Linked DNA regions of Homo sapiens. The protein of the gene in region 1 interacts with the protein of each later gene in a biochemical or structural test. Each region holds a gene or a part of one and is shown in the gene's direction. Other genes may lie near its edges. The genes, in order: CABIN1, BORCS8-MEF2B and CAMK4.

What was found.
Region 2: the proteins of CABIN1 (region 1) and BORCS8-MEF2B are reported together in a solved structure, tested with the Homo sapiens proteins (one study listed by BioGRID).
Region 3: of the proteins of CABIN1 (region 1) and CAMK4, one has a biochemical effect on the other in vitro, tested with the Homo sapiens proteins (one study listed by BioGRID).

What each region holds. Positions count from the first base shown.
Region 1 is NC_000022.11:24,159,948-24,170,462, forward strand, and holds part of CABIN1 (calcineurin-binding protein cabin-1), read left to right. Parts: intron 1-4,452; coding exon 4,453-4,616; intron 4,617-5,582; coding exon 5,583-5,679; intron 5,680-6,691; coding exon 6,692-7,366; intron 7,367-8,484; coding exon of another isoform or gene 8,485-8,499; coding exon 8,500-8,574; intron 8,575-10,515. UniProt on the Homo sapiens protein: May be required for replication-independent chromatin assembly. May serve as a negative regulator of T-cell receptor (TCR) signaling via inhibition of calcineurin. Inhibition of activated calcineurin is dependent on both PKC and calcium signals.
Region 2 is NC_000019.10:19,189,153-19,195,995, reverse strand, and holds the start of BORCS8-MEF2B (myocyte-specific enhancer factor 2B), read left to right. Parts: upstream 1-3,843; 5' UTR 3,844-3,878; coding exon of another isoform or gene 3,879-3,915; intron 3,916-6,843. Other genes in the region: DNA-binding protein RFXANK, read right to left, coding at 1,863-2,049; BORCS8 (BLOC-1-related complex subunit 8), read left to right, coding at 3,879-3,915. UniProt on the Homo sapiens protein: Transcriptional activator which binds specifically to the MEF2 element, 5'-YTA[AT](4)TAR-3', found in numerous muscle-specific genes. Activates transcription via this element. May be involved in muscle-specific and/or growth factor-related transcription.
Region 3 is NC_000005.10:111,484,299-111,494,813, forward strand, and holds part of CAMK4 (calcium/calmodulin-dependent protein kinase type IV), read left to right. Parts: coding exon 1-168; 3' UTR 169-10,515. UniProt on the Homo sapiens protein: Calcium/calmodulin-dependent protein kinase that operates in the calcium-triggered CaMKK-CaMK4 signaling cascade and regulates, mainly by phosphorylation, the activity of several transcription activators, such as CREB1, MEF2D, JUN and RORA, which play pivotal roles in immune response, inflammation, and memory consolidation.

The sequences.
Region 1 (10,515 bases):
CACTGCATTCTCCATGCTTCCATTTCTACATCTGTAAAACAGGGAGGCTGCCAATTTCTTGTTCCTCTGAGTGTTAAGCAGGGGTGTAGGAAGAGACTTGAGGTGGGCGAGTCTGGCCCCTGGGTCCTGTCCCACTTTGCATCACTAGGCAGCCTTGGCAGGTCACCTGAACTCAGTTTCCCTCTCTGGAAAATGAGGGGTGAGTTGATTACATACTCAGGTTGTCCCTCCCAGTGTAGACATAGGATGAATCTCTATGTCCCTACTCAGCCCACACCTGACCCTCGTCCACTCTGTGACAAGCTCGTGCCTTGGGTCTGAGTACTGTTCTGACTGGCCTGCTCCTCTTGCTTACCCTTCTTTCTTGCCTTGGAATTTCCAGGGGCACTTGATTTCCTGAAGAGCCTTTGCCTGTGCCCTAGAAGTGGAGGAAGCTCTAGAAGGAGTCATGACTGAAAGGTGGGGTCCGCCAAGGTGACAGATAGAGCTGGGAACCCTCAGCTCAGGGAGCCTCAGAACAGCCTTGGGCTGTGCCACTAAAAATGGCCCAAGCAGTGACCCAGCAGCCAGCAGTGGGGTTTACAATGAGAATCAGAACAGTGTTTGAATTTGTGGCATCAGGCTGTCGAGCCCCGGGTTGGCCCTGGCTGAGTGAAAGGCTGTGTCTGGCAGAAAAGAGAGCCCCTGCCCCTCCAGGAGTAAGCTCCCCTGAGACCACAGTGTGCTGGAGACAGCATGAGCCATGAGCCATGGGCCTGGGCATGGCCTTGGCCTGTTGGCCGGGAATAGCAGTGTTCTATAACTTCAGGGACACTTGTCACCTCGAAGTGGTGCCACCTGCCAAGACTGCACAGCCCTCCTGCCCCCAGGCACTTCACCCTGCTTCCCAGCCCCCTCATAAATGGACAGGGCAAGAGCACAGGCTGGCCCGGCAGCATCCTACCACCTCCACTTAACCAGCTCTCAGTTCCCCCAGGAAAGTCTTCGTGGGTTCCCAAATCATAGCAGTCATGCCCTCCCTCTGTGGACCCCTAGGCTCACTCTACCATGGGACTCAGTGTTTGAGGCTCTGTTTCCTCAAGAGCAGAGGGAAGACCACCAAAGTCTTAAGGCTGTAGGCAGGGTTTGGTAACTTGTATCAGGCACTCAGCTTAGAGTCTGGGGCTTCATAAATTATTCAGATTGTTAAAATCTCTCTCTGTGACCTCATCTGCCAGTGAGGAGCCTAGAGCCGTTCTGAAGGGTTGGGGGATTGACTGAGATGCCTGGAAAGAGATGCTTGGCATGGAGGGGAAGCCTCAAGCACAATCTCAGTGTCTTTAAGTCCTCTGAGGCTATTGGTGTGCACCCCCAGCTGCCCTCAACTCTATAAGCAAGCATTATCCCAGCCACTGTGGCCATCAGGGAACCCAGCCCTGGTGACACCAGGGCCCAGGAATCAAGTGGGGCAAATCTGAAGACAGCAAGTGTGCCTGTGGAACTGGGAGAGGCGAGGCAAGGGGTACGGCCAGAGCAGCGGGACCCAGGGCTGAGGGAGAACTAGGAGAGGGCCAGAGGAGACCCTCCTCGCGGCGACCCTGCTTCTCTCAGCTGCTACTTATGGCCCCTGCCCATCTATGATCCTGCCTCTGCCTTTCCCTCAGATGCCGTGGGGGTGTTGGCCTGGTGCTGGCTCCCTCCACCTGCCCTCAGCCAGGCCTCTTGGTCACTGCTGCCTATGCCCTTCTTTTCTGGCCCTGACTTAGCTTTATCCAAGCTCACCCCTGGCACATTCTCCACACCCTCCCTGAGGCCCGAACGTGAGTCCCTGGGCTGAATGCAGTGGGGCTTCTGCTGTGGCAGTTGGAACCTGGCCATGCCCCTTCCTCCTGTGTGGGCCGTGGTGAGGAAAACCAGGTGAAGCAGGGGCTGTCCCTTGTACCTGTCCCACTCCAGGAGACCCTCCTCAGCACCTTGGTTCTCTAGGAGCTTCATAGCCCTCCACAGGCCCGGTGTTAGAGGGACAGTGGAGGGAGAGGGCTGCTGTGGCTACTGCCCCTCTGTGGGGAACCGCTGTGTCCAGGTCATCCTGGGGCTGCCAGTATCATCCTTCTCATGGGTCTCTTGCTGCAAACACAGAAGCCCAGCTCCACCTGGTGTAGGCAGAAAGCCAGTTGGCTTGCTACCACCCTGCTGGCTCGTGACTCTGCCTGGTGGCTTCACTCTTCAGACCAGCTTTCTCTGGAGGCCAGCCTCATGGCCATAGGAAGTCCCCTCACCGTTCGGGAGGTATGTCCATCTGCACACCGCCCCAGGCCACAGAGAAGAGGGGTTATTCCTAAAGGCTCTCATTAGGAGGGGAAGCCTGACTGGGATCCTGGGGCCCATCTGCTGGCTGAATTCCCATGGCTGGTGGTGGGTCTTAGGCCTGGCCGAGCAGGCAAGGGGGCCAATCCTGGGGGCAGGGAAAGGACAAGCCCACAACAGAAGGGGCTTCTGGGAATAGTGCCCAGTGCAAGGTAAATAAACATAGGAGCCCCCATACTGGGGCATGTGAATGAAGATACAGTAAAGAGATGAACAAGGGCACACTAGCTGGCCTGACCCTGCCCGGGAAACGTGCCCTTCAGCACACTGTTACCAGAAAAAGGCCAAGCAAGATGCCAGAATGAAACCAGAGCACATGCAAATGTAAAATGCTGCCTTTCAAGCCTCTCAGGGCTGGCTGGGGAAGTTTTGAGAGTCACAATAGCATGGGGGTGGCCAAGCGGGCGGCGGTGTCTATGGTTCCCTTCTGATTTTCCATGGACTCACTGCCTGATTTGTTTGGTCTTCCATCCTTTCTGAAATCAGCAGTGTTATGTTACAAAAGGAAACGGAAAGGAGATAGGGATCCAAACTGTGCTGGTGTGTGTGATGCAAACTAGACCCGTCCTCACGGGTGTGTCTGTTGGTGTCTATGTGCCCTGGGAGGTGCAGGGATGGGAGGGTCTTCAGCGGGACGTACTGCTGCAGCACAGCGGATGGAGACCCAGGAGACAGTGTCTGCCCATTCTGGTGCCTACTGTAGATAGACCCTGTCTGTTGGAAAGCAGGTGTCTTTTCATAAGCTGCTTCAGGATCCACATCTGCATGGTAGGAAGATGCAGCATTGATGTTTGCTGCCCTGGATGTGGATAGCCTCAGTACCCTGGTTTTGTCCTTTTCAGGCACTGCCAGGAAGTAGAAGGTGGCTGCTGGCCTCCACATAGTCCCCCAGCCTGCAGGTGGACCCTCCATGTCACAACAGGAGCCAGTGTAGAGGCCACAGGGTCTCAAGGCTGCGAGTTTTAAACTCCTCTCAGGCCTTAACAGCTCAGGGCTGGAGGTGCCCTGGCTTTCCTCCCAGGGCTGCTAGAGCAGGGTGGGCCCACACCTGTGTACAGATACTGTGGATAATCAGCAAGGACCCACAGGGACAGGGCCCTGAGAGGGGTACCACCTAGACATCCTGCAGTGGTCCCTGTAGCTGGGGGCCCAAGTCCCCAGAATCCTATACTGCAGCATGATGTGGGCCAGGCCCCATGCCAAGGAGAAAGCAATGTCACTCATAACCTTGGTCCATTCTGGGCAGCAGTTTCTTCAGCGTGTTGGCTGCAGGGACCCATCTAGGAGCCAGTTCACTTATTCCAGGCCCCTGAGGTCCCACCCCAGAGATGGGCCTCCTTAATGCCTGTTTCCTCATCACTCACTCCCTGCTTTCCCCACACCCTGCCTGGACCCCGAGTAGGTGTCAGATGCCATGCTGGTCACTAGGACACTGCAGGGAACCAGGCCCTGGAGCTAGTGATAGGTAGGGGGTGCCCAGTGCTGCAGCAGGTAAAGCAAGGACCAAGGGAGATAATGGGGGGTGCTCCCCAAAGTCAACTTTGCCCTGGTTAAGCCTTCAAAGAGGAGTGGGGTAGGATGGCAAGAAGTGGGAAGAGGGAGGGGGACCCCAGGCATCCCAGGAGCTGCAGATGATTCTCTGGGCACTGCTGGAGAGAGTGGGTGAGGGCAGAGCCTAGCCAGAGCTTCCCTGCAGCCTGCTTTGACTCAGCAGTTCCACCTCTAACAAATGGTCTGGTGGCTGGGTAAGCACCTGTGCAGGGAGGTGTACACACTGGGCCTCTCACTGTCTGTCCTCACGTTTGATCAGGCCCCACCTGAGTGCATCCCATAGGGGACAGGTCCAGCAAACATATGAGATGCAGCCATACAAAAGAGGAGGCTGCAGAGCAGTGGGTCTGTCTGTCATTTGCTGCCACTCATGAGAAGGAAGGGGGTGGGGATACACTTCTGTCTCCTTGGGACAGTGAGAGGGGTCCAAGAAGCCCCTGGCTGGGCAGTGTCCCCTTTGGCACTGTGGCAGTTTCCAGGGGATACCAGACAGGGTGTCCCCGAGGCTCCTGCCACAACCACCCCCCTCACACACCTGTGCCATCCATCCCACAGGGCATCTGGCGGATCCCCGTGGACGAGATTGACCGGCCGGGCAGCTTTGCCTGGCACATGAACCGCTCCATCGTGCTGCTGCTCAAGGTGCTGGCCCAGCTGCGGGACCACAGCACCCTGCTGAAGGTGTCCTCCATGCTTCAGCGGACCCCAGACCAGGGCAAGTGAGTGCAGCCACCCTGGACACAGCCTGGCATGCTGTGTGGGTCAGGGGCACACACACCCCAGGAAGCCTCTCCACTGCTCTGGCCCAGCTGTGAGGACCACTGGCTGGGAGCCTGGACCAGCTCTTCATTCTCCTTGGGGGCCTCTCTGTCCCAGTGTCTAGAACCTAAACAACACTTCCCACCCCCAGGCACCCTAGGGCAGACACAGCCTGTCCCCACTGATCCTGGTTCCACGTTGAGACTCTGGACTACCCAGCCTTTCCTTTCCTCCTGCTTCCCCCAACTCAGGGCTCTCGGGGTGCTGTCAGGTTGTAGGGAAAACAGATGTTCAGAAGATAGCTGTGGTTCCCCAGACAAAGGCCAGTAACAGTGGGGTGAGCGACAGGGGTGCCTGGGCCTCAGTGGTAAACAGGGAGCTCTCCGCCAGAAAGGGCAGGACAGATAACAGAGCCATCTGTTACAGCTGCCATTTACAGGGGGTGTTGGGGGGATCCTGGAAGAGACGCAGCTCAGATGTAGATGGGCCTGGCCTGGAGGCCTCACTCCGTCAGCTGGACTGGGCCTCCTCCCATGCCTGCACTGTCTCACCCTCTGGCTGTCTCACTCACCTACCACTTGCCAGGCGATGTGCCAGGAGTTCAGGGGCCTCCAGCTGGGGCCTGGGGCACCCTGGAGCCAGACCTGAGGGAGCAGCTATAGGCTGCTGAGCACAGCACACAGGGTGGGCCCACTGCAGAGGGCCTAAGGGCAACAGGCTGGTGCCGGGTCAGAGGCCTACTGGCTCTGGATAGAGGGAGCTCAGGGGAAGCTTCTAGGGGAGCAGCCCCAAACAGGTGGTTAGGTGGAACACTGAGGAACAAACAGGCATCCTCAAGGCAGGGATGGGCAGTGGCCACCATCCAGCAGTGCCATGTGGTGTCAGATGCCCTCCTGTCCTCTCTGACTACCCCTGTATGACCGCAGGAAGTATCTGCGAGATGCTGACCGCCAGGTCCTGGCGCAGCGGGCCTTCATCCTCACTGTGAAGGTGCTCGAAGACACGCTGAGCGAGCTCGCAGAGGTATGCCACCTGTGTCCTCCTCTCCTCCACGGCCCATGAACACGCTTCCAAGCCCTTCCCAGGTGGTGGGCCCGATCCCTCTATTTGCATACCCTTAGGCAGGATGTGCCTAAGGGTCCCCATCTGTGAGGTAGCACCCATCCTGTCTTCCTAGGCAGGGAAGGTCAGCCGTGGTAATGAATGCACATGAATTCAGTGAGTCATGGATGCACTTGGTGATTAGTAAGAGCCATAGTGACTCCATGAAACTGAGCTCCCCAAGGGCTGCACCACCCAGGGCGGGGTCCCAAGCCCTCTCCCTGGCAGGCTGACCAAGGCCTATGAGAACACCATGTGTGTGCATCGTCCCTTTTCAGCCTTGAGGCAGGTGCAGCAGTACCTCCTTCTCACAGCTGAGCACCTGGAGGAGGCCAGGGAGGTTAAGCAGCCAGCCTACGAGGTGGGGCTGTTGGGAGTTGAGCCAGGACTGCCTCCAAAGCTTATGCCTGGTAGGGCTGGCTGTGGCTTGGTAGAGGGCATCAACTTGAGGCTGTTGGGGAGGAGTCCTTGCCAGCCCCCAACCCCAGGCCTCGTGCATTAAGGGCCAGGAAGACTTGGCTCTGCAGCAAACATGCTTGGTGGCCCTGGGCAGGTCCCCTCCCATAAAATGCCCAGAGCTGCCCGGAGTTCACGTCATGGAGTCAAAGGGGAGCTGGGCAATGCTGCCCCAGCTCAGCCCAGGCCTGTTATTCAGGAGCAGTGCCACCTCCAGAGTCCCGTCAGCCCCTTGCTACCTGGAAGAGTGTGGTGGGGTAGCCAGAGGTGCAGAGGAGGGAAGGCCTTTCTCAGGCAGGTCTCTGGGCCCAGTGTCCTTCTCTGATAACTGAAACACAGCCCTGGCCAGCTGGCAGATGTCCGGAGCCACACAGATGTCAGGTGGGAGAGGCCCAGGTTGGGCTCACCAGCCCCCAGAGGTGACTCATTGCAGTGGAGACACCAGCGACACAGCTTCTTACCTTTGGTTTCTTTGTAGGGGTCAGAACGCCCAGGGCCCAAGGTCTGTGGCCTCCCCGGAGCCAGGATGACCACCGATGTCTCACACAAGGCCAGTCCTGAGGATGGCCAGGAGGGCCTCCCCCAGCCGAAGAAGCCCCCTCTGGCTGATGGCTCAGGGCCAGGGCCCGAGCCAGGAGGCAAAGTGGGCCTCCTCAACCACCGGCCTGTGGCCATGGATGCAGGAGACAGTGCAGACCAAAGCGGGGAGCGGAAGGATAAAGAGAGCCCACGGGCAGGGCCCACTGAGCCCATGGACACGAGTGAGGCCACTGTTTGCCACTCAGACTTGGAGCGGACACCACCCCTGCTGCCAGGTCGCCCCGCAAGGGACCGGGGCCCCGAGAGCCGGCCCACTGAGCTGTCCCTGGAGGAGCTGAGCATCAGTGCCCGGCAGCAGCCCACCCCGCTCACCCCAGCCCAGCCAGCCCCCGCCCCCGCCCCCGCCACCACCACAGGGACCAGGGCAGGGGGCCACCCGGAGGAGCCGCTCTCCCGGCTCAGCCGCAAGAGGAAGCTCCTGGAGGACACAGAGTCAGGCAAGACACTTCTGTTGGATGCCTACCGTGTGTGGCAGCAGGGCCAGAAGGGTGTGGCCTATGACCTGGGCCGTGTGGAGAGGATCATGTCGGAGACCTACATGCTCATCAAGCAGGTGGGTGGCAGGCAGAGGCCTGGGGGCACTAGTCTGCTGGCAGCATCCCCACTCTTGCCTTTCTATCCTCAAGGAGGGTCTCCCAGGCCTGCCCTTGGGGCGGGTTTTAGGTGTTGTTCCCACACCATCCCTGCTGTTCACTTTCTGCAATGAGCTTTAAAAAGTCAATATTCAACCTGGAAGGAAGTGAGAGCCCGTCACAGAAACCTTATCACAACCAGCGCGGGGAGTCTGGACCGCTGCTCCCACCGCTGCGCTGGGCCTCTGGGTACATCTTAGGGCATTTCCTTCAAGACTTCTGTGGCTGTCATCTAAAGATGGCTGCAGTGACCAGAGATCCCCTTGTCATTTTGCCTTCTTTTTTTAAACATTTTATTTTAATGTATCAAGCACTTTCCTTTTTCTCCATTTAAAATTATTCCCATAGGAAGAATCTCCAAAACTTTAGTGACTGGTTCAGATGGGATGACCATCCCTGACATACAGTATTCCCTCTAATCATGTCAGTTTGCAATGCATCCTACCCCCAACTGCCCCATATCATATGGACCTTGGGCACTGAATCCCTAGACACACTTGACACAGCATGGGGCTATCACCATCAGGCCTGGGATTCCGAAAGGCCTCTCCCACTCTAATCATGGCCCTCCATCCTGCCCACTTAAAGGGCAGGTTCTAGCTCAGAAGACTCCCCTCTTCCCCTAGCAACTGAGCCTCAGCTGAATTTGAAGGCTTGGTTGGAGCCCTTGAGTCTGCCTGCCAGCCTCAGCTTGTGAGGATGTAAGTAACTCAGCCATAGAAATGAACTTGGTATAGCCAGATGGGCTCAGAGGAACAGCTGGGTCCAATTCTGGCACCAGTACCTGGTGGTGTGGCACCTGAGCAGGCACCCCCACCTGGGAGATGGATGGGCATCTGCCCCTGCTACCCACGAAGAGCTGGGACGTAGGGGTCTAGATGCGGACAGCAGTGGGGACGGCTGGCTATTCAGCAGAGTCTGGGGTGTTGGGGGGCACCCGAGCCACAGGGCATGCCCCCTACCTAGGCTGGTCTGTGCTACATACACAGACAGGGCTGGGGGAGGCTAACCACAATGGCCTGCGCCCCCTGACTTCCAGCATCTCCCTGTTAAGGTGGATGAGGAGGCTGCGCTGGAGCAGGCTGTGAAGTTCTGCCAGGTCCATCTTGGGGCTGCCGCCCAGAGACAGGTAAGCCCAATTTAGCCTGTGCCAGCCTCATCTTGCGGAGCCTGCTCCATATCAAGGCCCTAGGATGCAGGCTGAGAAGCAGATCCACTCTTGGGACTGTTCTTGTGGTCAGCTTGGGCTGAGGGGAGATGAGCAGGGGGCAGCTGAGCCTCCAGCACGTGGCCATAGTGGGCAGGAACTTGACGGCCCAGACCCCAGTTCAGACATGCTGAGGGGTCCCCTCACCTCAGCCACCTTTTCTGTAACAAGGAGGATGGCCCCTAGCCAGCTGACCTCAACTGGGAAGGTCATTCCGTTTGGAACAGAAGTAGAAGCAGCAATGTTAGAGCCAGTCTGGTTAGGAGCCAGGTGGCAGGGGAAGGTGGAGATGCAGCCTATACAGGGACTGCCCCCCGCCCCACCGCCCCAGGGGAGGACTTGTAGGGAGCAAGGTGTCCTAAGACAGGGTAGGCAGGAGTCCTGGAGTTTATTAAGCAGGGAGGAAGCAAGGCAGCAACACTCCTGAGTAGGGAAGATGGGGTTAGTGCAAGGTCCAGGCCAGGGCTGGGGAGGGGGGGGCGGGGTCCAAGATATGGCAGGGAGTAGGGAGTTGGGGAGGCCCCTCCTGGGAGGACCCCAAGCTAGAGGTGGGAGGGCTGGGATCAGAATTCAACAAGAGGATGTGGCAGGGAGGGGCAGACATGGCAGGCAGAGAGAGCAGGTGTGCCCTGTCTAAAACATAAGCCTCCAAGCCAGAGGGTAGGTGGCATGCCATTTGAGTAGGTGCAGTCTTTTGTCCCCAGGGGTGTCCCGATGCCCCCGGTAGCCTCGTCCCAGGTCCCTTTGTTCCAGGTCCCCTAGCAGAGGGCTGGTAGCTGCCTTTGGGGTCCAGACGGGCTTCCTTCTCAGTGGAATGGAGCCTCAGGCCCCCACCACCTGCCTGGGCTATTACGTCTGCGGAAGCCCTCGAGGTTCAGCTTTGACCAAGCAGGCTGTGGGCCAGACGAGGCATGCTGTGGGGAGTAGGTGGGCCTGGTCCCCAGCTAAGGGCCAGAGTCCTTGACAGGGAGTGCCCCAACCCCCAGCAGTCCCCACCATTTCATTGTCCAGCTAGGCAGAGTGCATAGCACAGCTGTCTGGGCCCCAGTGCTGGGCGCAGGCCCAGGCCCAGGTCCACCAGGGTGCCCCTGCCTCCTCCACTGGCCCAGGTGGAGCAGGTGGACATGGGAGTGGTGATCACTCAGGAGATAGGAGGGCTGTTTCTGCTTTTGACGTCCTTAAAAGATAGACCCACACAGGAAACCCCCCCACAACCCCACACTGTAGCGTGAGAAGAAAGGGCTACTGAGTTGGCAGGAGCCAGGGCTGGGCCAGACCCCATTTTGCCGAGGCACATGCATATTGGGGCCCCTGAGGGCTGGGTGAGCAGAGATTTCCGTCAGAGACCTCGGAAGACACAGCCTGGGTTATGGGGGTGGCCAGAGCCAGGGGACCCAGGTCCTTACCTTTCAGGTTGCCTGCTGCTGGGCGACGCCAGGCCAGGCCCCAGCAGTCTCCTCCCAGTTTGTGGAGGGGAGTGGCAGGGAGGAGGCCCTAATGACCCTCAGACCTACCTGCCTGCTTCCCAGACCCTGGTGCGGTGGGGGCGCCTTGGTATCTGCCGTGGGCAGATTTGCGTTTCCTACCTAGGATTCTTACCCTGGGCCCAGAGAAGATGCCACTGTAGGGGCTAGCTGCCATCCTCTGGTTCTCTCCTCCCTTAAGCCCAATCTTGGAGGCCATTTCCTGCCATCAGAGCCCATAGCTCCCGCCCCTCAGGGAGTGTCCATTTTGCTCACGGCATGTCCTTGTTGCCATGGCAGCCCTGAACCCGCCTGGAGGGTGCTCTGGACATAATTAGAGGCTCAGTGCCCACGGCTGAGGCCCGCTCCTGAGCGAGCACAGGGACACTGCACTCACCTT
Region 2 (6,843 bases), on another chromosome or scaffold:
CTGAGGTGGGTGGATCACCTGAGGTCAGGAGTTTGAGACCAGCCTGACTAACATGGTGAAATTCCACCTCTACTAAAAACACAAAATTAGCCATGCATGGTGGCAGATGCCTGTAATCCCAGCTACTCGGGAGGCTGAGGCAGGAGAATCGCTTGAATCCAGGAGGTGGAGGTTGCAGTGAGAGAGATCACGCCACTGCACTCCAGCCTGGGCAACAAGAGTGAGACTCCATCTCAAAAAAAAAAAAAAAAAAAAAAATTTAAAAGCAGGTAGAAGAGGATGAAAAGAACGGAGCACAAGGAATAAGTCCTTCTTAGACAAGGTGGTAACAGGAGGGCCTCCCCAAGGTGACACCACCGAGATCTTAGGAAGTCAAAGAAATCCGCTACAGGGACTGGGCGCGGTGGCTCACGCCTGTAATCCCAGCACTTTGGGAGGCCGAGGCGGGCAATCACCTGAGGTCAGGAGTTCGAGACCAGCCTGGGCAACATGGCAAAACTCCATCTCTACTAAAAACACAAAAATTAGCTGGATGTGGTGGTGCATGCCAGCTACTTGGGAGGCTGAGGCAGGAGAATCACCTTAACCCAGGAGAGGGAGTTGCAGTGAGTCAAGATAGTGCCACTGCACTCCACCCTGGACAACAGAGCAAGATTCTGTCTCAAGAAGAGAGGGGATCCAGGAGGCGTCTCGAGAGTGGGGAGAGGGGAAAGGAGGGGAGGGGAGGCGAGGGGAGGGGAGGGAGCCTGGGCAACAAAAGCAAACCTCCATTTAAAAAAAAAAAAAAAAACGGACTGTAGTCCCAGCTACTCGGGAGGCTGAAGCAGGAGAATGGCGTGAACACGGGAGGTGGAGCTTGCAGTGAGCCAAGATTGCGCCACTGCACTCCATGCACTCCAGCCTGGGCGACAGAGCGAGACTCCATCTCAAAAAAAGAAAGAAAGAAAGAAAAAAAAAACGGAGGCGGGAAGGGAGGGAGGGGAGGGGAGTCAGCTATAGGAAGAAGTGTAGGAAGAGCATTCCAGACAGGAGTGGCAGCAACAAAGGTCGTGGGAGGGAACTAAATTAGGCATATTCTTGGACTCCAATCAAAAATAAATCCTCAGTTCCTCAGTAAGTAAAACAGGATGACCATCTGACCCAGTAATTTCACTCCTAGCTATCTACCCTCAAAGAGTTAAAAACAGGTGTGAAGGGCCGGGCACTGTGGCTCACACCTGTAATCCCAGCACTTTCGGAAGTGGAGGCCTGCAGATCACTTGAGCCCAGGAGGTGGAGACCAGCCTCCCAAAAAAAAAAAAAAAATTAGCCAGGTGTGGTTGCATGCCTATAGTCCCAGCTCCTAGGGAGGCTGAGTGATGGCTTCAGCCCAGGAAGTTGAGGCTGCAGTGAACTATGATTGCATCACTGCACTCCAGCCTTAGTAACAGAGCGAGACCCTGTATCAAAAAACAAAAACAGGCCGGGCACAGTGGCTCATGCCTGTAATCCCAGCACTTTGGGAGGCCGAGGTGGGCGGATCACCTGAGGTCAGGAGTTCAAGACCAGCCTGGCCAACATGGTGAAACCCCGTCTCTACTAAAAATACCCAAAAAATTAGCTGGGCGTAGTGGCGGAAGCCTGTAATCCCAGCTACTCAGGAGGCTGAGACAGGAGAATCAGTTGAACCCAGGAGGCAGAGGTTGCAGTGAGCTGAGATCACGCCATTGCACTCCAGCATGGGCAACAAGAGCAAAACTCCATCTCAAAAAACAACAAAACAAAACAAAACAAAAACGAAAGCAAGACACAGGTTCCATGTGAGGCCTGACATTCCATCATCATGGAATCCCAGAGGGCTAATCCCAGAGGAGGTATCCTACCCTGTGGAGAGGAAACACTGGCATCCGGTTCAGGATTCACAGGCTCAGGGGTGCAGGGAAAGAGACTGAGGACCACAGTGTCTGAGCCATCTGCAGCCTCCTCTCCGGGGTCTTCAGGGTCCCCAAGTTCTGAGGCAGGGGTCTGCTGGGTCTGGATGAGGTCTTCTGCAGGCTGGGTAAGCTCCATGGGGAAAGCTGGCGGAGGTGTCAGAAGGGGAGAGATGACAATAATTATCAACAGTTATAATAAAGTAGGCACCGACTGCATACCTAGCCTTGCACTGTGAGGGTGGGTAAACTGAGGTCCAGGTTAATTACCAGAGCCAGGGAAATGAAAACCAGAGTCCAACTGCTTTCGAGGTCTACCATTCCCCACCACCAAAGCACCTACAATGTGCAATGTTTAAGAGCCTGGGCTCTGGCAGGGCACAGTGGCTCACGGCTGTAATCCCAGCACTTTGGGAGGCCGAGGAGGGTGGATCATGAGGTCAGGAGTTCGAGACCAGGCTGGCCACCATGGTGAAACCCCATCTGTACTAAAAATACAAAAATTAGCCAAGCGCGGTGGCGGGCGCCTGTGATCCCAGCTACTCGGGAGGCTGAGGCAGAATTGCTTGAACTCGGGAGGTGGAGGTTGCGGTGAGCAGAGATCGCACCACTGCACTGTAGCTGGGGCGACAGAGCAAGACTCTGTCTCAAAAAAAAAAAAAAAAAAAAAAAAGAAAGGAAAAAAAAGCCGGGGCTCTGGGGTCAGCTGTCTGGGTTCGAATCCCTCAATTTATAGGCCGTGAGAACTTGGGCACGTGACTTAACCTTTGAGCCTCAGTTTCCTCCACGACAAAATGTGGAAATGAGACCTACAACGAATTATGTCTGTACATAGCTTATCGGGGGATCTGCTAAGCGTGGAGCTCAATAAATATTCGCTATGGTTGTTGGGAGGGGCTCCCCATAATGAGTGACGGCTCAACAAAGGTGCGATTGGTCCCAGTCCCACCCGAGCCTCCTAAATCGATCCAGGAGGTCCACTCACCTCCCCACGAGCCTCCTCTGTCCCCCCGCGCCGAAAGCCCAGTTCTCTCAAAACTTGGGGGCCCAAGTCACAAACTTTTCTCTTCCAATGGATATAGCAGGAGGCAAACTGGAGACCGGACCCTCAGCGATCTGGCTTCCTCTGCCGGGACAGAAAGCAACTTGATACTCGACCGCTACCCCCACCCCAGAGCTCCCCCACTGCGCTTGCGCACCCCCGCCCCCCAAAAGTGAGGAAGGGCCCGGGCAGTAAGTGCTGCCTCTGGCCCTTTAAGACTTAGGGGAGGGCGTGGGTTCCGCTGGGGTCCTGGGAGGGCAGTTGCGCCTGCGCCTTCTTTTCCCCTCCTCACCGACTCGGAGGGAATGGGCGGGGCCTAAAGGGCTCTGAGAATTTCACTACGCCTGCGCCCGCTCACCTTTACCCTGCCCACAGATTTTTCCAGAGGGAGCCAATTGGCTCCGGCTTCGGGTAGATGGGCGGGGCTATCTCAAGAAGAAGAAGTAGGGGAAGTACGCGGGGCGTCTGGAACTTAAAGGGGCAGCGTACCTTGGCCGTCCCGTTCCACAACAAGGTCCCTTCTGCGGTCTCAAAGGCTTATAAGCAAGGGCGGGGGCAGAGGGCTAAAGAAGGGAGTTTTTGCGGCCCGAGTGGGTAATGCGTGGAGGACTCCCCCAACTCGTCTCTCAAGGAAAAGGGGGTTCAGAAAGGGAGAGAGTTCTTCCCCCTCTCCTGCCTGGGTGTCGCTCCACCAGCCTCCTGGCCGTCGCGCCCCCTCCTCACTGCGCCACCCCCGGGTGTGCCTCCTTCCCTGCGTCTCACACAGCCCCTTTCTTGTCCGCAAAGACTGAGGAGCGGGGAGGGCGGGCCCTCTGACACCGGAACAGGAGCCGTGCGGCGTCCGGTTTCAGCAGGGAAGGCTTAGGCGGGCGTCCCAACCTCCGGGCTTCCGGTGCCGTTTCCCGGTTCGCTCGGCCGCGGTCGCTATGGAGGAGCCGGAGATGCAGCTCAAGGGGAAGAAAGGTGGTGCGGGCCTGCGGGCGGGACAGAGGGGGCCGGTAACTTGTGGAGGGGCGGCCTGACAAAGGCCGGGCGCGGAGGGACCGTGCGAGGAGCAGTGATTGAACTGCCGTCCAATCCCAGCTCTGCCGCTGACTAGTTTTGAAACCTGTAGAAAGGCTCCGTGTCTGCTTTAATTACCGGTCCCCCCAGGATTGTTTCAAGAATTCAGTAGCTGAGGCTGGGAGTGGTGGCTTTGTAATCCCAGCACTTTGGGAGGCCTAGGCGGGAGGATCGCTTGAGCCCGAGACCAGCCTAGGTGACATAGTGAGATCTCGTCTCTAAAAAAATACAAAAATTAGCCGGGCGTGGTGGCGCACGCCTGTGGTCCCAGCTACTTGGGCGGCTAAGGTGGGAGGATTGCTTGAGCCCGGGAGGTCAAGGCTGCACTGCAGTGGGCTACGGTCGTGCCACTGCACCCCCAGCCTGGGTGACAAGTGAGACCCTGTCTAAAAAAAAAAAACTCAACAACCTGATATTTGTAATGCATTGGAAGAATCCCCGGGGCGTAGTAATCGCTGTGCGTCTTGTTTCCTTTTTTTTTTTTTTTTTTGAGACAAGGTATCACACTGTCGCCCAGGCTGGGGTGCGGTGGCGCGATCATGGCTCACTGTAGCCTCGATCTCTCTGGCGCGGGCGATCCTCTTGCCTCAGCTTCTCCAGTAGCTGGGACTACAAGTGCACACCACCACATCAGGCTAATTCTTTAATTTTTTTTTTTTTTGACGGAGTCTCGCTCTGTCACCCAGGCTGGAGTGCCGTGGGGGGATCTCAGCTCACTGCAACCTCAGCCCCCTGAGTAGCTAGGATTACAGGCACACACCCCCATGCCCAGCTAATTTTTTTGTATTTTTAGTAGAGACGGGGTTTCACCTTGTTGCTCAGGCTAGTCTCGAACTCCTGACCTCGAGTGATCCACCCACCTTGGCCTCCCAAAGTGCTGGGATTACAGGTGTGAACCACTGCACCCAGCTAATCCCCTATACTTTAAATCACCCTAGATTACTCACATCTAGAATACATAATACAGGCCTACACATCACTTCATTCACATGGATTCAAAGAAGTGCTTCGTGTAGGGCAGATTGAAGTTTTGCTTTTTGAAACTTTGTGGAATTTTTTTTTTCCTATTTTCCATCCACGGTTGGTTGAATCCACAGATTCGGGAACCATGGATAACGGAGGGCATGAGTATGAGGCATGAGCCACCGTGCCTTGTCTGTTATGCTCACCTTTCTTCTTCTTTTTTTTTATTTGAGACGGAGTTTTGCTCTTGTTGCCAAGGCTGGAGTGCAATGGCGTGATCATGGCTCACGGCAACCTCCGCCTCCCGGGTTCAAGTGTTTCTCCTGCCTCAGCCTCCCGAATAGCTGGGATTACAGGCATGCACCACCATGCCTGGCTAATTTTGTATTTTCAGTAGAAACGGGGTTTCTCCACGTTGGTCAGGCTGGTGTCGAACTCCCAACCTCAGGTGATCCTCCCGCTTCGGCCTCCCAAAGTTCTGGAATTACAGGCGTGGGCCACCGCCCCTGGCCGTTATGCTCACATTCAAAGCGAGGAGGCCTATCTGGTAAGAGGTCACACAGTTTGGAGGTGGCAGGCTGGGCTCTGCCACTCAAGGCACAGTGGTGAGATGGAGAGACTTGTGTTAGCCTCCTTTGACTCCCAGACACGCCTGGGTTCTCTCTCCTGAGCAGTCACCCTGGTGATGGCATTGGATTCATCTCTGTAGCAAACTTTGAGGCTGGTGCTGTTATTCTTTTTTTGTGGATGAGGAAGCTGAGGCTCAGAGAAGCTCTGCTCTCCCAAGTCCAAGCTTTTAACTTTTCCTGTGAACATGTAACCTAATCAGTTGAAATTGGTATTAAGAGAAAGGAACAAAATGCCTGCCAAGGTCCTCCGTGAGGTGGAGGGGTCATCTTTTAAGCTTGGTAGTCAGGGAGGGTCTTGCCCAGGAGGTGACATTTGAGCAGACCTGAGGGATGAAGGAGAGCCAGTGACGGAATGGTGTCTCCAGGTGGGAATACCAAGTGCAAAGGCCTTGAGGTGACCAAGTGTTTAGAGCTCTGCTGTAATGAATAAAGGAGCAACTGGTCACATACGGGCATTTAATTTTTTTTTTTTTGGGACAGAGTCTCACTCTTTTGCCCAGACTGGAGTGCAGTGGTATGATCATGGCTCACTGCAGCCTCCACTTGTCAGACCCAAGCAGTCCTCCCACCTCAGCCTCCTGAGTAGCTGGGACTACAGGTATAGATCACCATGACCAGCTTATTTTTGCAATTTTTTATAGAGGTGGGGTTTCGCCATGTCTCCCAGGCTGGTCTTGAACTCCTAGGCTGAATCCATCCTCCTGCCAAAGTGCTGGGATTACAGGCGTGAGCCACCGCACCCGGCGTTGGTCTCAAATTCTTATCCTCAAGTGATCCTCCTACCTTGTCCTCTCGGGCAGTGAGAAAGTTCTGGGCAGTGCTGGGAGGTCCAAGGAAGAGCCAGGGGTGGAGGGCAAGGAAGGCAGGGAGGTCAAGAGCAGCCAGAACATGCAGGGCAAGAAAGGCGGATTTTATTCTCTGGCAGGTGGGAGCTATGGAAGAGTTTAAAGCAAGGGTGGGAATAGATGATTTGTTCATTTGGAGTTTGCCTCACGTGCTGCATGGAGGTTGAACTGTTGGCAGCAGGGGAAGCAGAGAGGCCAGGGAGAAGGTGGATCTGGCATCCAGGCAGGAGATGGCCGTGCCTCGCTGTGCCTGGACCGGTGCGGGCAGTGTGGTATAATAGAACAGGTGAGACTGGAACCATCAGGATCTGCCCAAGAATGGGACAGGAAAGGCGGGCCCTGCTGGCTGGCTGGGAATGCCGTTGTTGAAACAGACCCTGTAATGAGGATTT
Region 3 (10,515 bases), on another chromosome or scaffold:
AAGGCAGTGGAGGATGGGATAAAGGTGGCTGACCTGGAACTAGAGGAGGGCCTAGCAGAGGAGAAGCTGAAGACTGTGGAGGAGGCAGCAGCTCCCAGAGAAGGGCAAGGAAGCTCTGCTGTGGGTTTTGAAGTTCCACAGCAAGATGTGATCCTGCCAGAGTACTAAACAGCTTCCTTCAGATCTGGAAGCCAAACACCGGCATTTTATGTACTTTGTCCTTCAGCAAGAAAGGTGTGGAAGCATGATATGTACTATAGTGATTCTGTTTTTGAGGTGCAAAAAACATACATATATACCAGTTGGTAATTCTAACTTCAATGCATGTGACTGCTTTATGAAAATAATAGTGTCTTCTATGGCATGTAATGGATACCTAATACCGATGAGTTAAATCTTGCAAGTTAACACAACGTAACACTTAAAAGCATACATTTTCAGCAACCAGTGGCACATATTTGAAGTGAATAGTAGCAAATTGTTTTTGCTTTGAAAATCTAGCCATCCTACATCCTTTGGATTTCTTCACAAGGCAGTAATTCCTTTGAACTACTGCTTAGCTAATACTAGGTAGTGCTAAAAGACATGTTCCCATAACTTTTACAACATTTTACTTTTTATCATTGATGTGTTCAAACTGTTTACAAGGAGATGCTTATAGATGATAGTTGTACATATGTGCAAAAAAAAATCCACTTGCAATGGTAAGAAATTGAAGTATCCTTAAAGGCCATGAAGCCATATGTCCCTAAAGCCTGTGTGGAGAATGCTTTATTTTATTCTTATTTATATACACTATATTAATAATAACCAAAATGTTCTAAGATTCTGCCATTTTACAACCCTGGAGGAAGTAATTTACAAACTCACGCTGAGTTCCATTCTTTCCTTCACCTGCTCTCCAATAAGATGACTTTCTGATAGACAAAGCTTAGGGTGTAATAAACAGGGAAGAAAAGAAGGTAAGACTGTACTTAAACTGATGAAGATAAGATTGATTCCTTTTCATTTTCCAGATAAAATTGTATTTACTCATGAATTTATACAACTTTACAGATAAGAACATTTTAATGGATAAACTCTATAATTACCAAGTTGCAAATATTTAGAAAATTCTATTTCACAGGTTAGTGCCAAAATGTCTTCATAGAGTAGGAATAATATTCCATTTTAAGATTATTCATTATTGACTTTAATAGAGTAAGAAAACATTATTGTTTATCAAAGCTCTTTTTTTATCCAATTGATGGTTATCTACACATATCACTTATAAACTAAAGTTATTTATGAAAAGCTAGTATGTCTTTTTCTCGTATTTGGAATGAAAGTACCCACATTTTACAATGTAGTGTTGAGAATGTGGCTGCCAATAAATTTAGCACAATGCAATTTATTTACCTTAAAAAACAAACAAAAACAAAAATAAAGAAAAATACTGATTTCAAATCAGACTCTTAAAAAGCTGGAACATTAGACCTGATATTTTATTATGATTTTTCCCAGAATAAGTTTAATTTCTCTTTGACTTTCATAGAAACACTTTCCCCTTATAGAAATTGCACTATCTCCAATTTATTTCTAGTTTGAGTTGAAATGAATATTTTATCAGATTAATTATGTGTCACATTTTTGGTGGGTTTTCTCAATTTTAAAAAAGAATTCATTTTAAAAAATAATTATTTTCAGAGACCAAATAAAGACAATAAAAATGACTATCACATAAAAATCCTTGTTAAAAAAGAGATCTTAAATTATGTTGGCTCTCCCTCAAAACTATTAAATTAGAAAACGAAACTAAAGCTCCAGTTTGTAGAGGCTGTTGGACCTCAGTAGACATTCTTCTTTTCAATCACAAATCTCTCTCTACTACTGTTCTCATGGGAAGAAAACAAGGTAGGACTTCTTATCTTTCATAGTTTAAGAATCTGACAGGTCACTGATATGGAGCCCCTGAAGAAGCACATCATCTGGGCTCAGAAGATTATTTTTTGTTTTGTTTTATTTGTACTATCTAGTAGAGAGCACTTTTCTTATTCCCTCTTTCCTTCCTTCCTCATTTAATTATTCCCTCTCAGAATTCCCATGTTGTCCATTATAAGGGGCTCGCTATTTTTAACCTTTAAGAATGTCTTCTTTGTTAAGCATTAAGATTTCCATTTAAGAGGATCAATTTCCTGTTGTACTTTTTACCATGAGACTGAAACACACACACACACACACACACACACACACACACACACACACGTGTTGGAAGAGCAAAGAGAGGGAAGGGGGTCTTTTTAGAAAGTGGCACTTGGCGCTTAGCTGAAAGATCAGAACACATCATTCCTCCCTGCCCACCCCCATATTGTTCCAAGGGCAGTTGTTACATTATTTCAACACTAGAGTAGGGCGGACTGCATTGTTTGGCCCTGAGAACTATAGAAACAACGTTGCAAATACCATGCCCAATGTGTATTTTAGAATTTACTCATTTAAATGAGTGCATATTACCATTCCTCCATGTGAGTACTCGAGTTGATAATTCCCTCTATCTTTTTAAACCCATAAACTACATTTTTAAAAAAATCAATGGGAGTTTTAAATTTTGACTCATGTTAAAGATAAGATTCTGATAATGACTATATAGTGACTAATTTCATTGTTTCAGTAGGAAACAAATCAAACTTTCAAAAATGTTGGTCATTTCAGTCAAATTATTCAAAGATTTCATATACATACATCCTAAGTTAGGATAATTATGTTAACATTTTTGAAAGAACAGCCAATGTTTATATTGCTTGTTAAAATGGAATGTATTGTCTATCTCAAAGATTACTTAGCTAAATAATAGTAGACAAATGGAGATTTAATTTCACAAAATACTTCATAACATCACTCCTAATTGGCAATATAGTCACAAAGCAAAAGAATTCAAATTTCAGCAAACAATAAATTACATTTTACATTTTAGAGCTAACACTTATCACATTACATTATGGGTTTTTATTTTGAGATAAGTTCAGCTACATAGCATAAACTAGGTTTTTTTTTATAACCATGAAGGACAGTCTTGAATTATTTCCCCCATTAACAAAGTCTAATTGGAATCCAGTATTTTTTCTCAAACTGTAATTTCACTTGTCCCAGGACACATAAATAGGTAAAAATTAGAATAATATCGTGGTAGAAGTTAATTGTCCAGAACAAGTGCATTATATAAATATAATGCAAGCACATGTCATTTAAGATTTTCTATTAGTCACATTTTAAGAAAAATAGATGAAAGTATAGTATTTTTAATCCAATTCATCCAAATTATTCTATCGATATATAGTCAATATTAAAATTTAATGTGATATTTTGAATTCTTTATTTTTATACTGTTTTCAAAATCAAGAGTGTATGTTAGGCCTTTGGGACATCAAGTGCTCAATAGTCACATGTGGCTAGTGGCTACCATATTAGACAGCACTAGTCTAGAGTACTTTTTATTTTAAGCAAAGTGACACTTGAAGTTCTATGCTTAGATTTAAGTGGCCTCAGTTTTCACATTGAGGAGCTGGTGGGAGGCCACAAAGAAAGTGTTTCAGAAATGTTACACACTGAGTAAAAGCTTATTGACCACTCCTGCCCATTCATTTACTTCAGAGGAGAAATGATTCCTAACATGACTTCAAAGAACGGGCATTACTAAATTATCTACTGACCAATCCCTCTGATTCCTGATGGGCCCTGGAGTCTTGACTACAGCCTAGAGTCTCCTGAGTACTGCCATGATGCCAATAGCATTCTTGCTTACCAAAATCTACTCTCAGCCAACTATGTGTCTTCATTCAGGAAGAACTGCACATAGAATCTGATTTTGAGGCCTGGATTAAGCTTCATGCCATCCTTGTATCACAGGCAATATGTCTTTCTGGAAATCTAATGAACCATACCAAATCTGCATGATGAAGATTGTGTAATGATGGTGATATCATGCCAGTTATCCTCAAAGTGGGAATATGACCATTAGCTGGCATTTTTTAAGATTTCCTTAGAAGGGTTTAATCAACACTGCCATTACACATGGATTTAACAAAAGACTTTTGAAAATTTTTTACATACTGATTTTAGAATAATCCTCAAGGTTCTATAGTCATTTTTAGTGGAAGACTTAAAAAGAAAGGAACAATTTTTACTGTGACTTCAATTTCATAGTATTTTAAACATATTTTGTAATTCAGAATGTTTAGCAATCCCTATGTCCTGTTTCACATGCATGGTAACTGATGGTGGGTTGCCTACAGGCTGAAGATTTGGAGAGAGCCATTTTGTTTCATAAATCAGTTTTTATTGCACAGAAGCAGCTGGTTGTATTTCAAGTTGGAAAAAGAAAAGTAAATGCCAGAAAAGGCAAAGGATAAACTTAGTAAGCCATTTATTTTGTTTTAGAATTGTTTTTGCAAAGCAAATTTTTTTAAAAAAAGGTCAACAAAGTGAATCAGCACTAGCATTTTCTTGATGGTTGACTCAATGTATAATTAACAAATATACATAGCAGAGTCAATTAATCATAGTGCCATTATGTCACTTATTTGTCATTGCAAAGTATTCAGTCATGTTGTCTAGATTTACTTTAGATGGTGCAAAATTTCCAGATAGTAACCTATGTAAAAGGATTTGTAATTTCCTTGTAATTCCTGCCTATTAGTCCATATTCTGATTTCCTTATGTTCATCACTGATATGTTCCTGATCAGGGTCATTGCTAGTAGTTGAGCATTTACTGGTTGAACATTGTTTAATGGTTAGATGTTATGTGTGTCTGCATTTAAAAAAATTGTGTACATGTTATTTCACTATTGGTATTACAATATTCATAACCACATGATAAACAGAAATGTACCCAATAATTTCCTATAAAATTTTTCAAAGTCCTTTTATTCCCCTGACACACTCAGGGTGAATTTTTGTCTCCTTGGCAAATAAGAAAAAAAAGGAGAGAGACCACTGGAGAGATATCAGCAAACCACCCACAGTAACCAAGTTCAGTATTTCCTCTTTCTATATTTTGACCAATATATTAAGAGCAAATTTTGTCATTATTACTCCTTGTGGCTATTACCTGAGATCAGATAATATAATCTCAGCTCATAAAGCTTGGCCATGTCTATACTTATCTTGGAGAGCAATAACAAACTTGATTAATTTGTTTGGTTATTTAAAATTCCAACTTTCATAAATGCTCTGTGATGTACTCAAGACGATTGGGTTGTGTGATACTAACTTCCTTCAAGAACTCAGTCTGTTCCCTGTTGTCTGGTTCAGAGGTCCACCAGGGCAAAATAGAAGCCTTGCCGAGAAAGTGAACTGTCTTACTCCTTCAAAGGAATCAGATGTTGCTCTAGAGAAGACTCCAGGCATCTACCTGGTTGAGCTCAAATGAGGCAAGTGGGAGAAAACCTCTTCTCATCCTCTGATTGAAAGTGATACAATTTGAATATTGGTATATTGTCATTGGTCAGTAATGGAAAAATGAGATTCCACCAGTGGGTTACTCTTTTCTTGTCTTGGTTTGCTATGCCTTATCCCAGATCAGTGTTTTGTTCCATCCCTATGGTCATCTCTAAAGCCCTGACAGGAGCATCCCAGACTGGAGAAATGCAGCGTATCTGTGGCCCAGAATTTTGTTTGATACTCTAAACAGCAATGCAAAGACTGCAAAATCACACTATTCTAAACAGTTGTTTTCAGCTCATTTTGAAGATTGACCTGGAAAACATATAGATACAGAATATATACATTTAATCGTTGCTTGTGATTCATTGTGTCAAAATAACATTTAATTTTCACTCTGATTAATCTTTATTTTCCATTTAAAAGATTATTTCAGGCTACTTAAATACAAGACCTTGCATTCTAATTTTTGAAAGCGGTTGTTTTCCCTGAGCTCTCTCTCAACTTTGACAGTTTGTGAATGATAAAAAGTTACTAGGTTTGTCCTTTCCTTGATAGATGTAGAGCAGTTCATCTGTTTTGTAAAGGTACAGTTAAGCATAACTATAGGCTGGGCGTGATAGTTCATGCCTGTAATCCCAACACTTTGGGAGGCCGAGGTTGGCAGATCACCTGAGGTCAGGAGTTTGAGACCAGCCTGGCCAACGTGGTGAAACCCCTAATACAAAAATTAGCTGGGCATGGTGGCACGCTCCTGTAATCTCAGCTACTCAGGAGGCTGAGGCAGGAGAATCTCTTGAACCCGGGAGGCAGAGGTTGCAGTGAGCCAAGATCATGCCACTGCACTCCAGCCTGGACAACAAGAGCGAAACTCCGTCAAAAAAAAATATATATATATGACCATAAATTGAAAACTATCATCTCATACTGCCTCCTTTTAACCTGACCTATTTTATATACCTACAATACAGTTAATATGCAGCAGCGTAGAGAACAAATAGCATATTCATAATTTGTAATTTTGTTTTTCTTTTTACGGCACCCTTAAGTCTCAGTAATATTTTAAAAGTCCTCTATAAGCCAAAAGAACGTTGTAACATATCCATTTATTAAGGAGTTAGGCCTAAACATAGTAATAGTAGTCCATTCCATGTCCAACAGATGTTGCTGTGTTTCTTTCAACATTTTTCAATGTCTTGTGAGTTTAGTGAGTGGGTACAGCTGAGTTGGGGTTTAGGTGATTTCTTATGCCCAATGAACTAAAGGTATCAGTAAAAGATTATTAGTAAACAAATTAGTTATTTATGCTCTTACTTGAATGTCAGTCATTCATTTTATCTCTCGTCTTTGAGATACACACATTAAAACTTATGTGCATATTTTTTTAAAGAGTAATTTCCACATAATTCCCCAAGAACTGAACTCAAATCTCCAAAAATTTTTCAGAACTCAAGCAACCAATGATTCACAGAGCAAATCTACCAAAGCCCCATTTTTATTGGAACACAGGCATGCTCATTTATGTACATATTGTTTGTGGCTGCTTTTATGTTGTCAAGGCAGAGTTGAGTACTTTCAACAGAGACCATATGGACTGCAAAGCCTAAAATGTGTATCTGGACCCTTACAGTAAAACAATGACCCTGGGTTTTCATGGCACCCCAATGCCTTTTTGGTGACTTGCAGGAATACAGATTCCTATATTCCAGTTTGTTTTTTTTTTTTTCTCCTTAGCTTAAGGTTCGTATTCCCATTTGCTTCTGAGAAAGTTAGGAAAATTTTGTTTTATGTTGCAGATGCTCTCACAACAATAATTGTGCTGGAGATAGATACAACTTAGTGAAATTTTCCTACAGAACTAAAAACGCAAAATTGCATCACTCCTGAAGAAAAGAAATTTAGAGTATGAATTGAGTTGGTTGAGAGTAGAATTAAAAAGATTTCTAGCACTTTGAGCATGTTTTAGAAATTTGATCCTTACATTTAAAATTATGTAAATGACATCTTTCACTGGCATTTGCTCACATTTAAGTCAATCTACAGCTGTTACTTACTAAGCTAAGAAATAAGAAGATCCCTATGGTTCTGAATCTCTCATAATATTCTGAAGTAATTTATATCAATTGAATTTTCATTAATCATTTTAGGAAATATTATGTTTTATTTTGTGGCATTATATGACAATGACTTTCTCAACAATAGCTCAGGGAATACGCAAACAGCCAGCTCTTTTATGTAAGAAAGCCATTTTCTAATCCCCACGCTTTCCTGAGTGTTACGTATTTTATTTCTTTGAAAAGAGAGGGCCTTGAGTAAATGCTTTCGTTTGCTTTCCTTACATATTTAGAAATCCAAGAAGGGCCCTTGTCTTAGTCTATTTCTGTCACAGAGAAATTGTTCATTCCAAAATATCCACCTTAAGGGAAGCTAGTGACCGAGATATGGAGAAAAACATAGGCATTCATGACCTTTGTGTTTCCGTTTGACTTTCAACATCTGTAACCAAAAGGTCACAAATGAAATATTTAGTAGAAAGTGCAATATCAATTTATTAGGAGTACCTAAAATTATAACTCTAAATAATATACAGCAATATTATTGCTCTATTATTACAGCAATCAATAATATAATATAGCCACTAGGATACACTCGCTGTAGAACTCAGAACAAAAGATATCAATCTTCTGCCAGTCCGCATCATTATGTGTAGCAGAGACTTTACTGGAATGAGTGAGGGGAAAGATAACAAAATGTAGATTAGGATTCCACATTCTCCCCTGCCCATCTTCTTGATTGCTCAGTTTGAAGACGATCATTGATGGACAAATACTTTAGAAATGAATGAAGTCAATAGCTAATGTTTCTCCCAGAAACTAAACAACATAGTTTAGGGGATATTAGGCCTACATTCTAATCACATTGTAAGGAAGTGATTTTCTAATTTTGAAGCTTCCCAGGAGCAGCCCCCTCCAGGAACAATTTTCCCTGTGAACTTTCACTGAGAAACTATTATATGCCATGGAGGAGTCAAAGATGAATTAAATCCAATGCTATCCTCCAGGAGTGAGCTTTGTAGTTGGAGAGAAAAGCCAACCTTATAGATACAACCTGTACATATATAACCTATGCTGCATTTAGGCAGATGATAAGCCCTAGGAATGGAAAGAGGGAAAAGCTCCCTTTTGCCAGGAATGATGAAGGAAAGCTTTATGGAAACACAGGCTGTATGTGAAAGATGGGTGAATCTTTGCAGGTAGGGAAGAAGTAGGGGGCATGTCTGGCTGAGAACCGGCCTGATCATAGAGTGGAAAAATGAAAGGCAGAGGTGAAGGAAGAATACTAAATGTGAAAGGCTGAAATACACAGGGAAGTGTTGCCAGTGTGCAACAGAATCTCATCTCGTGCAAAATTGAATTAGACTTCCTTACTCCTTCCTTACTCTGGGTAGGTCCATGTGCAGCCTTTCCTCAGAGCATCTAGCCTGACATACTTGGCTCATCTGCTGTGCTTCTAAGCCAAATAAAAATCATCAAACACATCGAAGATATTTTTGGGAGTCACCAGGTTAAAGCAAAGCCTCAGTCACTGAAAGCAAAAACTGAATTGGCCAGGTCTCCACTGACAAAACAGAGTAAATGATAGTATGACAGATAATTTCAAGTTTTCCAAGACTCCAATTTCTGAAAAATGTCTCATGACTCCAAAAAATCACGTACTTCCTAAAATGTTGCCAGTGGAGGACCGAATCAAGGTTATTGCTGACCTCATTTTTTCAACCTTTTCAGTTATTTGACCTGAATAGGCAATCCCCCAGGATTTCTGATTGAATTCTACCTGAAAGTTTAGATTTTAAAAGACAACCTGTAGGAAGCTAAGTCTCAGGCAACAAAATTTAAAACCATCAGAACTTGTTTCTCCAAACATCAACCTGCTCCTGTCAAGTCCTTTTTCATCTCTCCCTTTTGTCCCTTTACATACTGTTTTGTAAGTTCCTTTTGATATCATTTATTGCAGGCAGTATTTTTACATCCATCTTCAAGAAACTTGGGAGACATTTAGACATTTAGTATGTGTACTTTTAGTTGTCTTGCCTCTTTATTTCAGATAATGCCTGTGATTAGTGAATGGCGGCATTATTCCTGAAGACAAATGAAGGAAGATAGGGAGCAAGATTGACTGTCATTTGAATGATGGAAGAGAAGTAGAATTACTGTGAGGTTACAAAAATCGTAAGTTAGCAGACATTGAGAAAGGAAAACTTCCTACTTGGGCTTTTCAGGCTTATGTGACATTATCTGGATGTGTTTTCTAGTCTTTCCTAAAGGAGAAATTTTTATTCCTGGGTTGCTGAAAGCTTTCTGGACTAAAAGGATATAAGCAGCTCAATAGCAGCATAGAGGATTAGATTAATGGAACAGCACTGCATACAGGAAAGCTACATCTCCAATAGTTTAGGCTGCAAGTCAGTAGCCAAACACAAGAGCATGTAAGATTTGGAGGACAAAGTATAAATATTTTAAGTTTACACAACCAAGATTATAGGCTACCTTCCCAACTTCTAATTTGAAGAGCACTGAAAATGGAGCTGTGAACACTTCATTTTTAAAACCTGACAATATGGTGCTATTGACTACTTAATACAAAGATATATTACAATATTTTTAGGTAAATGTATTAAGTCTGGCCTGGGCATAAATGTACATACAGAAAATGTTTGTAGAGAATTCATCAAAATCATGCCCATTTGCTGTTGTAGAGCTACAGTATTCTTCAATGGTGGTGACTGACCAGTGAGTTTCTACTTCTTACAGATGGGACACAACAGTCATGGGCTGTCTCAGCTGCCCAAAGCCTGAGGCAGACCACATGAGAGCTGTGGCTTCTTCTTGGATTCAGGTTGGATAACCCAATTCAGTAATTAAATATGTAAATTTTGGGGGGGGTTGGGGGGTGTTTTCTAGGAACTTGAAGAGTACGTGACATTATAAAAAATGGGTGTTGGAAGACTAATTGTAGAAATTTGACCTGAGGGCCAATGTTACTTGGTGTAAGTTCACTCAGACAGACATGTCAGAACATGCCCAAAGAAGCCTAT